2 linked regions of the Homo sapiens genome follow. The protein of the gene in region 2 purifies or fractionates together with the protein of the main gene of each other region. This does not show direct contact. Each region holds a gene or a part of one and is shown on either strand. Other genes may lie near its edges.

Region 1 (3,899 bases), on a different chromosome or scaffold from region 2:
ATAATCCTAGCATTTTGGGAGGCCGAGGCGGGTGGATCACCTGAGGTCAGGAGTTCGAGACCAGCCTGGCCAATATGGTGAAACCCCATCTCTACTAAAAATACAAAAAAAAAAAAAAAAAGAAAGAAAGAAAGAAAAAAAAGAAAAAAAATTTGGGCAGGGCACGGTGGCTCACGCCTGTAATCCCAGCACTTTGGGTGGATCACCTGAGGTCAGGAGTTGGAGACCAGCCTGCCCGACATGGCAAAATTCCATCACTACTAAAAATACAAAAAAATTAGCCAGGCGTGGTGGCAGGCACCTGTAATCCCAGCTACTCGGCAGGCTGAGGCAGAAGAATCGCTTGAACGTGGGAGGAAGAGGCTGCAATGAGCCGAGATGGCGCGACTGCACTCCAGCCTGGGCAACAGGAGTGAAACTCTGCCTCAGAAAAAAAAAAAAAAAAAAAATTAGTTGGGCGTGGTGGCTTATGCCTGTAATCCCAGTTACTTGGGAGGCTGAGGCAGGAGAATCACTGAACCTGGGAGACAGAGGTTGCTGTGAGCCGAGGTTGCACCACTGCATTCCAGCCTGGGCGACAAAACGAGACTCTGTCTCAAAAAAAAAAAAAAGGAAAAGAAAGAAAAAAGATAATGAATAAACAAAGGGGTTTAAAGGCAAAGATATAAAGATCCCAGGAGACAACCACAATTTCTCAATTTATGCACTATGGTGAACGGAGCCAACTGACCTCTGCTTTCTTACGGCAGCAAAAATTCCAAAGACTTTTGTCTGGACTCTAGGGCACTGCTAATGTCAAACGACTTAGCAAAGTAAGAGTGGAAAAGGAAAAAAGGAATATCATTCAAGATACATGAAGGCTTAATATCACCAGCCTTAGGGGTCAAGTCTCAGAGCCATATGACACTTGAGACCTCAGGAGATGCTTCTAGTTCTTCTAATAATTATACCGTCTTCGATGGGGCTAAAGACTAATCTATAATAAATTATATGCCAAAGCTTACCATTTTACTCTCCCTTTTAAAATGACATCTGTGGTCTTAGAGAGCAAGATTAAAAATCTTTCCAAGGTTGAGGTACACATGAGATGTATGTCTTACACAAATAATTCAAATTCTCAGATAAAAGATATAACTCAAAAACAGTCAGGCTCCAGTTAGAAGGCTCTAATCATCCAGTAGAGACATGACTGTGGCTGTACTATATTAGCTCCAGTGTGGATGCAAAGTGGATGGTGAGAAATATTTAGTAGGTAGACCAGCATCTACTGGATAGAGGGGAAACAGCAATATTTCTGAAAAGCTATGTTTTTCCCAATTAAATCATGTTTTTAAAACTCAGTGGGAAAGACCAATCTTTAAAGAAACCCTATAACATATCCCTTATAAGTTTTAAAAATATTTTATAATACAAATAAGATGTTCCATTTTTCAAAAATTTGCTGCAAATTTTCATATTAGATCAATCATATTTTCTTAAAAGTTGTGATTGTTGGGAATTTAATCTGTCCTTTGGTATTATTTATTTGAGTAGATGTTTCCTGTCTGTCACTTCTCACTAGCATCTAGGCTCCCTGCTGCATCCCATACATAAACAGTGCCTTGTGCCCAGTAGGTGTTCATTTACGTTGAATAAGTAAATAAATTAGACTTAATGAAAACACAAACTTGCATTTTATGTTCTTTTGCACATAGCTGTCTTTCACTTAACATTTATCTTTTTCTTTTGGCAGCATCTAAGCCTAGTGGATATCCTGGAGTTGGAGTAAAAAATATACATATTTTATAAGACTAAGTTTCTATTTTACTATCCTGACTAGTAAATAAGTAAAAGGCCAAGGGAACTGATAATGAGAAATAAGCAGTGCATGAAATCACACTTTGGAAAAATATTCTTCTTGCATAAACACATATTGAGGACCTACTATACCATGCTAAATCATAACTACATATTGCAAACTCCTAACAAACTGTTGTCAAGACATGCCTATGCCTCACTGCCATTTAACAAATATTTTTAGCATCTACCATATCCACTGTGTTAAGCACTAGGAATACTTCTATAAACAAGACAGATGATTTGTCTGTCCCAGATTCTGATGGAGGAAAAAAAAGAGAAGAAAAACCATATAGAAATTACAATAAGGAAGTAAACGGCAAACCAGCAAATAGTAACAGGTAAGTACCCTAGAATAAGGTGGTCAGAGAGGCCTCTCTAAAGATGTGAAACTTAGAGCCTCTGTGATGGAAAGGAGCCAGCCCTGGGCAACATCAGAACAGCTAGTTCAAAGGCTAGGAGGTGGGAATGAGTGTCACAGAGCAGAAAGATGGCAGTGTGGCTTGAATATAGTGAGAAAGGGGTGGTGGGTGGTACAAGTTGAGGTCATAGAGGTAAGCAGAAACCAGATCACAAAGAGCTTTTCAGGCCATGGGAAGTTTAGATTTCATTCCAAGTGCAATGGGAAGCCATTAAGGATTTTAAAAAAGAAGGCAACATGATCTGATTTGCATTTTAACAAAATCATTCTTGCAGTTTTGTGAAGAATGGATTAAAACGAACCAAGATGAGTACTGGGCGTGGTGGCTCATGCCTGTAATCCCAGCACTTTGGGAGGCTGAGGCAGGCCGGTCACTTGAGGTCAGGAGTTCCAGACCTGGCAAACATGGTGAAACCCTGTCTCTACTAAAAATAAAAAAATCAGCCAGATGTGGTGGCTCACGCCTGTAATCCCAGCACTTTGGGAGGCCAAGGCGGGTGGATCACCAGGTCAGGAGTTCGAGACCAGCCTGGCCAACATAGTGAAACCCAGTTTCTACTAAAAAATACAAAAATTAGCTGGGCATGGTGGCATGCGCCTGTAGTCCCAGCTACTCGGGAGGCTAAGGCAGGAGAATCGCTTGAACCAGGGAGGTGGAGGTTGTGGTGAGCCGAGATCACGCTACTGCACTCCAGCCTGGGCAACAGTGCGAGACTCCATCCCCCAAAAAATAAATAAATAAAATAAATTTAAAAATAAATAGAAAAATCAAAAATTAGCCAGGCATGGTGGTGCATGCCTGTAGTCCCAGCTACTTGGGATGCTGAGGCACAAGAAGAATCACTTGAATCTGGGAGATGGAGGTTGCAGTAAGCCGAGATTGTGCCACTGCATTCCAGCCTGGGCGAGACAGAGCAAGACTCCAGAGGGGGAAAAAGAGGAAGAGCAGCTGGGAGGCTATCACAGTAATATAGGCAAGAAATGGTGGTGACTTTGACTAAAAGGCTAGGAGTGGAGGTAGAAAAAACATCAATTCCAGATGCATTTTAAAGATGGGAGAACTGATTGGATGTGAAGGACAGGGAAGAATCAGGGATGGACCCTAGGTTTCTGGCCTGCACAATTAGATGTATGGAGGTTCCATTTACTGACATGGATGGTACAAATTACTGAGATTTAGTCCTCATATACTATGTGCTCATTTCAATTACCAAATTCAGTGAATTCTTATCACATTTTATCTCTCTTCATCTGACAATGCTGAAATACCAAACTCACCTGGTTTTTCTCTTACTCACAGAGACTCTTTGTCAGGTTTCATATACCCCAAAACTCCGTCTTTGGCTCTCTGCTATGTTCTTCAGTGCATTTTCCCTGGATGCCCTCATCCAAACAATCCAAGCTTTAACTATTAGCCACATAACTCTCTAAATCTCCATTTCCAACCAGAACTTTCTCCTCACCTCCAGAACTGTCTATCCAATTGTTTTCTGCCCATCTCCATTTGGATGTCTTACCCGCATCTCAAACTCAACATATTCAAAAGTATCTCCATCATCTTCTTCCCCCAAGACTCCTATTTCCCCATCTGTGAAAAGGCCAAAAATATGCCCAGCTTCCCAAGCCCAAAACCTATGATCAT
Region 2 (5,908 bases):
GCAGTGAGCTGAGATCACGCCACTGCACTCCATCCTGGGTGACAGAGTGAGACTCCGTCTCAAAAAAAAAAAAAAAAGGAACTGATTATAGTTTGGGTCCTTTCTCATTTCTCTCTTACCGGTAATGCTCGTCTTTGTCACGCTTGTAGAACCGCAAAAAGAGCAAGTGGACGGGCAGCCCCACAAGCCGCCACCGGGCTTGCAGGGTCCAGTTCTCAGGGTGGCGGGTCAGCTGTAAAACCTCCAAACGAAGGTGTGCAAAATAATTCCAGGCCAGGAAACGGCAGAGGGTCAGTGAAAGAATGTACCATGTCCGGCCCCTGTGAAGAAGGGATGGGAAAGAAATCTCATGATGGCAGAATTAGAAAACCAAACTGGCTTCTAAGGAATGGGGAACAGCTGTGAGAAGCAGTCTAGGAACTTCTCTGGGAAGTGAAAAGGGTCATGTATATACCTTTGGGTGCTTTTCCTCCCCAGTGCCCTACCTGTGCCCCAATTCTCACTTGGTACGTATGTTGAGGATCTCATTGATGAATTCCACATCCAAGGAATACAGACTGTAGTCGTGGGACTGAAGGAAGAGCTTGGGAAGCTAGGTGGAAGAAGATGGCATCAACCCAGTGGGAAAGAAAAGATAATCCTATTTTTCAGTTTTCTAATTTTTTTTTTTTTTTGAGACGGAGTCTAGCTCTGTCGCCCAGGCTGGAGTACAGAGGTACAATCTCAGCTCACTGCAACCTCCGCCTCCTAGGTTCAAGCGATTCTCCTGCCTCAGCCTCCCGAGTAGCTGGGATTACAGGCTTGAGATGGAGTCTAGCTCTGTCGCCCAGGCTGGAGTGCAGAGGTACAATCTCGGCTCACTGCAACCTCCGCCTCCCAGGTTCAAGCGATTCTCCTGCCTCAGCCTCCCGAGTAGCTGGGATTACAGGCACCCACCACCATGCCCAGCTAATTTTTGTATTTTTAGTAGAGACGGGGTTTCACTGTGTTGGCCAGGCTGGTCTTGAACTCCTGACCTTGTGATCCGCCTGCCTCGGCCTCCCAAAGTGCTAGGATTATAAGCGTGAGCCATGTGCCAGGCCCAGTTTTCTATTTTTAAGGCCTCCTTACTCCCATCTTGGAGTGAAAGATCTCATCCCATGATTAACCTCCCTTAACCCAAAATGAGGAACATCATTTTCTTTCTTTTTTTTTTTTTTGAGACGGAGTCTCGCTCTGTTGCCTAGGCTGGAGTACAATGGAGATATCTCCTTTCACTGCGCCTCCTGGGTTCAAGCGATTCTCCTGCCTCAGCCTCCTGAGTAGCTGGGATTATAGGCGTCTGCCACCATGCCTGGCTGATTTTTGTGTTTTTAGTAGAGATGGGGTTTCACCATGTTGGCCAGGCTGGTCTTGAACTCCTGACCTCAGGTGATCCACCTGCCTAAGCCTCCCAAAGTGCTGGGATTACAGCACTTTGAGCCACCGTGCCTGGCTGGAACATCATTTTCTCAGGAAAATGTTTATAATATATTTCTATGCCTGCCTCATGGTTCCAAAAAAGAATCCAGTTGACTATCCCTGTACGTCCAAGGATTACCCACATCCTTCCCACTGTAGACGAAGGCCACTTTTGCACTGACTTACCTCTTGTCTCAGTCTCTCATACATGACAGACAGATGTTCCTCCATACTAGGATCTCCTGACGGGGTGGCAGGGGAAGGGTGGGCAGTTCCAGGGACTTGGAAAGGTATCCAAGCCCCAGGATAGGGGCAGGGAGGTCCCTCAAAAAGGCTTCTAAGCCCATCCAGGCAGCCGCTATGCAACTCAGGTCCTGGTCCCTCCTCCCCCTTTCCTGGAGGGAGAACCACCCATGCTGAGCTGAGGGCCTGGATCTGAGGGAGAGGTAGTGGGGGAACCTGGGGAAGACGCTGGGTGGGAAGGCGTGGGGGCAGGGGAGACCAGAATAGAGGAGAAGATGGGGAAGTGGTTGTCGTGGAGTGGGGCCAAAGGGGTGGGAATGGTAGAGTCCCTGGATAAAGCTGGTCCTAAGGAGAAAGAACAGAAGGGAGAAAGATAAGAATCCACTTGTCTAACACCCCTTGATCCCCTGGATGCTCAACAGGCTTCCAATACCTATTCCTCCTGACAGAATGGATGGAATTACTATAGGAAAAAAGGGATGGATTCATCTCCATCTCTACTGAAAACAGGAGGAAACCATTTTATTTTATTATTTATTTTGAGATGGAGTCTCGCTCTGTTGCCAGGCTGGAGTGCAGTAGCACGATCTCAGCTCACTGCAACCTCCGCCTCCCGGGTTCAAGTGATTTTCCTGCCTCAGCCTCCTGAGTAGCTGGGACTACAGGCGCGCGCCACCATGCCCAGCTAGTTTTTGTATTTTTAGTAGAGACAGGATTTCACCATGTTAGCCAGGATGGTTTTCATCTCTTGACCTCGTGATCCACCCGCCTCTGCCTCCTAAAGTGCTGGGATTACAGGCGTGGGCCACCGCGCCCAGCCGAGCAAACTGTTTTATGTGACATAAATACCGGCACCTCCCAAAACCTAGCAGACATTTTACTTTTTTTTCTTTTTTTGAGACGAAGTCTCACCGTCGCCCAGGCTGGAGTGCATTGGCGCGAACTCGGGTCACTGCAACCGCCGCCTCCTGGGTTCAAGCCATTCTCCTGCCTCAGCCTCCCGAGTAGCTGGGATTACAGGCACCCTTCACCACGCCCGGCTAATTTTTGTATTTTTAGTTACAGATGGGGTTTCACCATGTTGGCCAGGCTGTTCTCGAACTCCTGACCTCAGGTAATCCGCCCACCTCGGCCTCCCAAAGTGCTGGGATTACAGGCGTGAGCCACCGTGCCCGGCCCAGTGTTGGAATCTTAAAGAAATGTGGCCGGGCGCGGTGGCTCACGCCTGTAATCCCAGCACTTTGGGAAGCCGAGGCGGGCGGATCACGAGGTCTAGGAGTTCGAGACCAGCCTGGCCAATATGGTGACACCCCATCTCTACTAAAGATACAAAACAATTAGCCGGGTGTGGTGGCGGGAGCCTGTAGTCCCAGCTACTCGGGAGGCTGAGGAAGGAGAATTGCTTGAACCCAGGAGACGGAGATTGCAGTGAGCCGAGATGGTGCCAATGCACTTCAGCCTGGGTGACGGAGCAAGACTCCATTTCAAAAAAAAAAAAAAAAAGATTCCAACACTGGGGGCAGTTTCACCTCTCTTATCGCAAGAATCATGTAATACATACTTGATGAGTTAACGAATAACAGGTTTTATTGTACTGTGGATTAAATGCTGTGGCCTGTACATCTCCATGATTAAGTGTGCGAGGCAAATGTACAGAGAAAAAAGAATATCCAGCTGAAGCTAGGAATCTGAATTCTATCATGTAACTTTAGGCATTCTCATTCCCTATGCCTCCGCTTCCTACAAATGTCCTATAAATGAGAACAATAAAGCCTCACTGGGTTATGAGGCCTATATGAAATAATGAATGTAAACAAAACGTAGCGACCTAGAAAGCAGTACATAAATGGAAGCTATTATCATTTCGGGCCCCTCTAATGACAGACACAACCTCAGGAGACAGTTAAAGGCTGGCCTTCACTCTCCTGGGTTTACCGACGTTGAAACTGCAAGGGGAGGTCACCCAAAGTTAGGCCTCACCCGAGTCCCTCCGCTCCCAAGGAACCCCCCAGGGGATCGTCTCACTGCAGGGAAGGCGGGCGGACCGCTCGGGTACCTCGGTCCCCGATGGTGTCCTAGAGGCGCCGTCTCTGCTGGGGGCGTGGCCATCTTGCCAGCCCGGGCGCAGGGGCCCGAACCGGGTGCACACTGGCCGGCCTTCCTGCCAGGACCGCTCTCCGAGTGCAAGACGGGCGGGCTGCTGAGGGCGCCCCGCGGGTCTGGTCTGGGCCGGGGAACTCCGGGACGGCGCCGCAGCAGGGCTACGAATCTCTCGGCCCCTGCCCTTCAAATCACCTCTAGGCACAGGTAACCGCGGAGAGTCGGGCGCAACGCAGACGCGCCCCGCTGCCTGGCCTTGACCCCGCCTGACCGCCCTCAAACCTGGGAGGACCGACGTCCTTGCGCGACAGGCCCGGCAGCGCCTCCCTCCCGCTCCCGCGACCCCTAGCCTGTCCACGCGCTGCAGGGCACAGGTGGGAAGGGGCGGCGGGTGTCTCTGCGCCTGCGCGGAACCCAGCGCGCGCTCCGCCCCACGCACCGGCTTTGAGGAGGGTCTCTCCCCGCCCCCTCTCCTCCCTCCCTCTTCTCCTCCGCTCACCTGGGGTCGAGCCTGGTAGGCGCGCAGGCAAGGGCCGAGACGCCGGGCCGCACCCCGGCTGGGCTGGTACATGATCTTCCGGGAGTGGAGAAGGAGCCTCCTGAGTCCGACCTCCGGCCTCCTCACAGGGGTGAGCGCGCCCCAGAGCCGGCTTCGTGAAGGGGAAAGGAGGCCGGGGCGGGGGGGTAGGGGGGGAAGGGGCTGAGGGAGGGAAACGGAGATGTCCCGCGCTTGCGCACTGCAGGCTCGAGGGAAGCGGCTGAAGCGCTCTGTCGGCTGTAAGCGCGCCTGCGCCCGCGGGCTCGGAGACTGCCTGAGTGCGCTTGCGCAAGTTACAGCCTCCCCCGCCCCCCCAAGCGCTGTATTCACAGCTGAGGCCTTTGAGCAAAAAGCTGAGCAAAAACAGGGCTGAAGGCTGAATGGGTGCAACGACAGTGAGGGGTGAGGCGGCTGAAATAATGAGTCAAATTTTTCAACAGCTCTTGTGATAAAAATAAATACTTTTATTGGTCTGGTTAAAAGATACAAATGACTTGAATCTGATAAGCCTGCTGAATGAATGAATGAATGAATGTATCCATCTATTATGAGGGTTGGGCTTTGGCTCTTTCCTGTAGTGAGGGAGAAATAATACTTTGAAGATGTTTGACGGGGCTGCGGTCACCAAGGCCTGGTGCTGCGACGTTCCTGCAGGTTTCGAATGAACCTGGCGTTGAGTATGTCCCCACCCACTGTCCAGGACTGGGCTGGCGGGGCCGGGGCCTGTGGAGGAGCTGTGTGCATGGGCTTCTCCCCAGACCCATCCTGTGACAAGGCCTGCTCCTCACTGGCAGACCTGGTAGGTGGGGAGATGGAGAGTGGGTTATAGGAATACTAAAGAGGAAATTAAGATTACAGACTCTTCAAGGTCTCGGGCCAGGTTTTAATGTAGGACACATGATGGGTATGAAGCTGGAACCATTAGTGCTATGTCCAAATTTAAAACCTCTCAGAGAATCCGTATTCCAAAGGGAAGTACCAGAGTTGAACCTGTGGGGGAAAGGGGCTTGCAGGATGTAAGGTAGAAGGAATTGTGGGAGGAGCTGGTGTCCAGTTCATACAATAAGATTTAAGAGTAGGAAGTGACTGAGAATGATGTTAGGAAGGGAGTCAGATGGTGGTGGGAGGCTGTTAGGGGAGGGGTTTAGACCTCACCTATTCTTTGTTTCCTGTTCTCCCTGCTTGGAGTCTTGGTTGCCTGTGGAAATATCAGGCATGTGAATGGGAAGGCAGGAGTAGACAGTGAATGTGGCCTACTTGATTTGAGGGTAGGGAGGAGTGAATACTTACCTGTATTGGGGGATGAGGAATTCACCCCCCCATGGCGGCTGTAGCAGCAGCTTTGGGCTACCAGACCTGGGGGAGTCCCCCTGTAGAAGAAATGGGAGATGATGGGGAGGAGGCTACTGGATGAAAGATGGGTGGGTATGGAGGAATCAGAGGAGAGGAGTAAAAGGAATAGCACAGGAACAAAGAGAAGGGGGTAATTATCATTCCTAACAGGTTTTAATCAAAGCTGTGCCCCAGAAAAGGGCGGGGGAAGTTCATTTTATACCCAAGATTTTCTGGAGTGCTTCTGATTTATTG

What was found. Proteins that work in one complex are often made in the same cells at the same time.
Region 1: the proteins of C6orf136 (region 2) and MPZL1 purify together in Homo sapiens (affinity purification with mass spectrometry; one large-scale study listed by BioGRID and IntAct). This does not show direct contact.

What each region holds. Positions count from the first base shown.
Region 1 is NC_000001.11:167,724,585-167,728,483, reverse strand, and holds part of MPZL1 (myelin protein zero-like protein 1 isoform a precursor), read right to left. Parts: intron 1-3,899. UniProt on the Homo sapiens protein: Cell surface receptor, which is involved in signal transduction processes. Recruits PTPN11/SHP-2 to the cell membrane and is a putative substrate of PTPN11/SHP-2.
Region 2 is NC_000006.12:30,645,678-30,651,585, reverse strand, and holds the start of C6orf136 (uncharacterized protein C6orf136), read right to left. Parts: upstream 4,454-5,908; 5' UTR 4,355-4,453; coding exon 3,740-4,354; intron 2,029-3,739; coding exon 1,627-2,028; intron 593-1,626; coding exon 504-592; coding exon of another isoform or gene 500-503; exon of another isoform or gene 486-499; intron 321-485; coding exon 120-320; intron 1-119. Other genes in the region: ATAT1 (alpha-tubulin N-acetyltransferase 1), read right to left, coding at 4,943-5,117, 5,477-5,519, 5,612-5,691.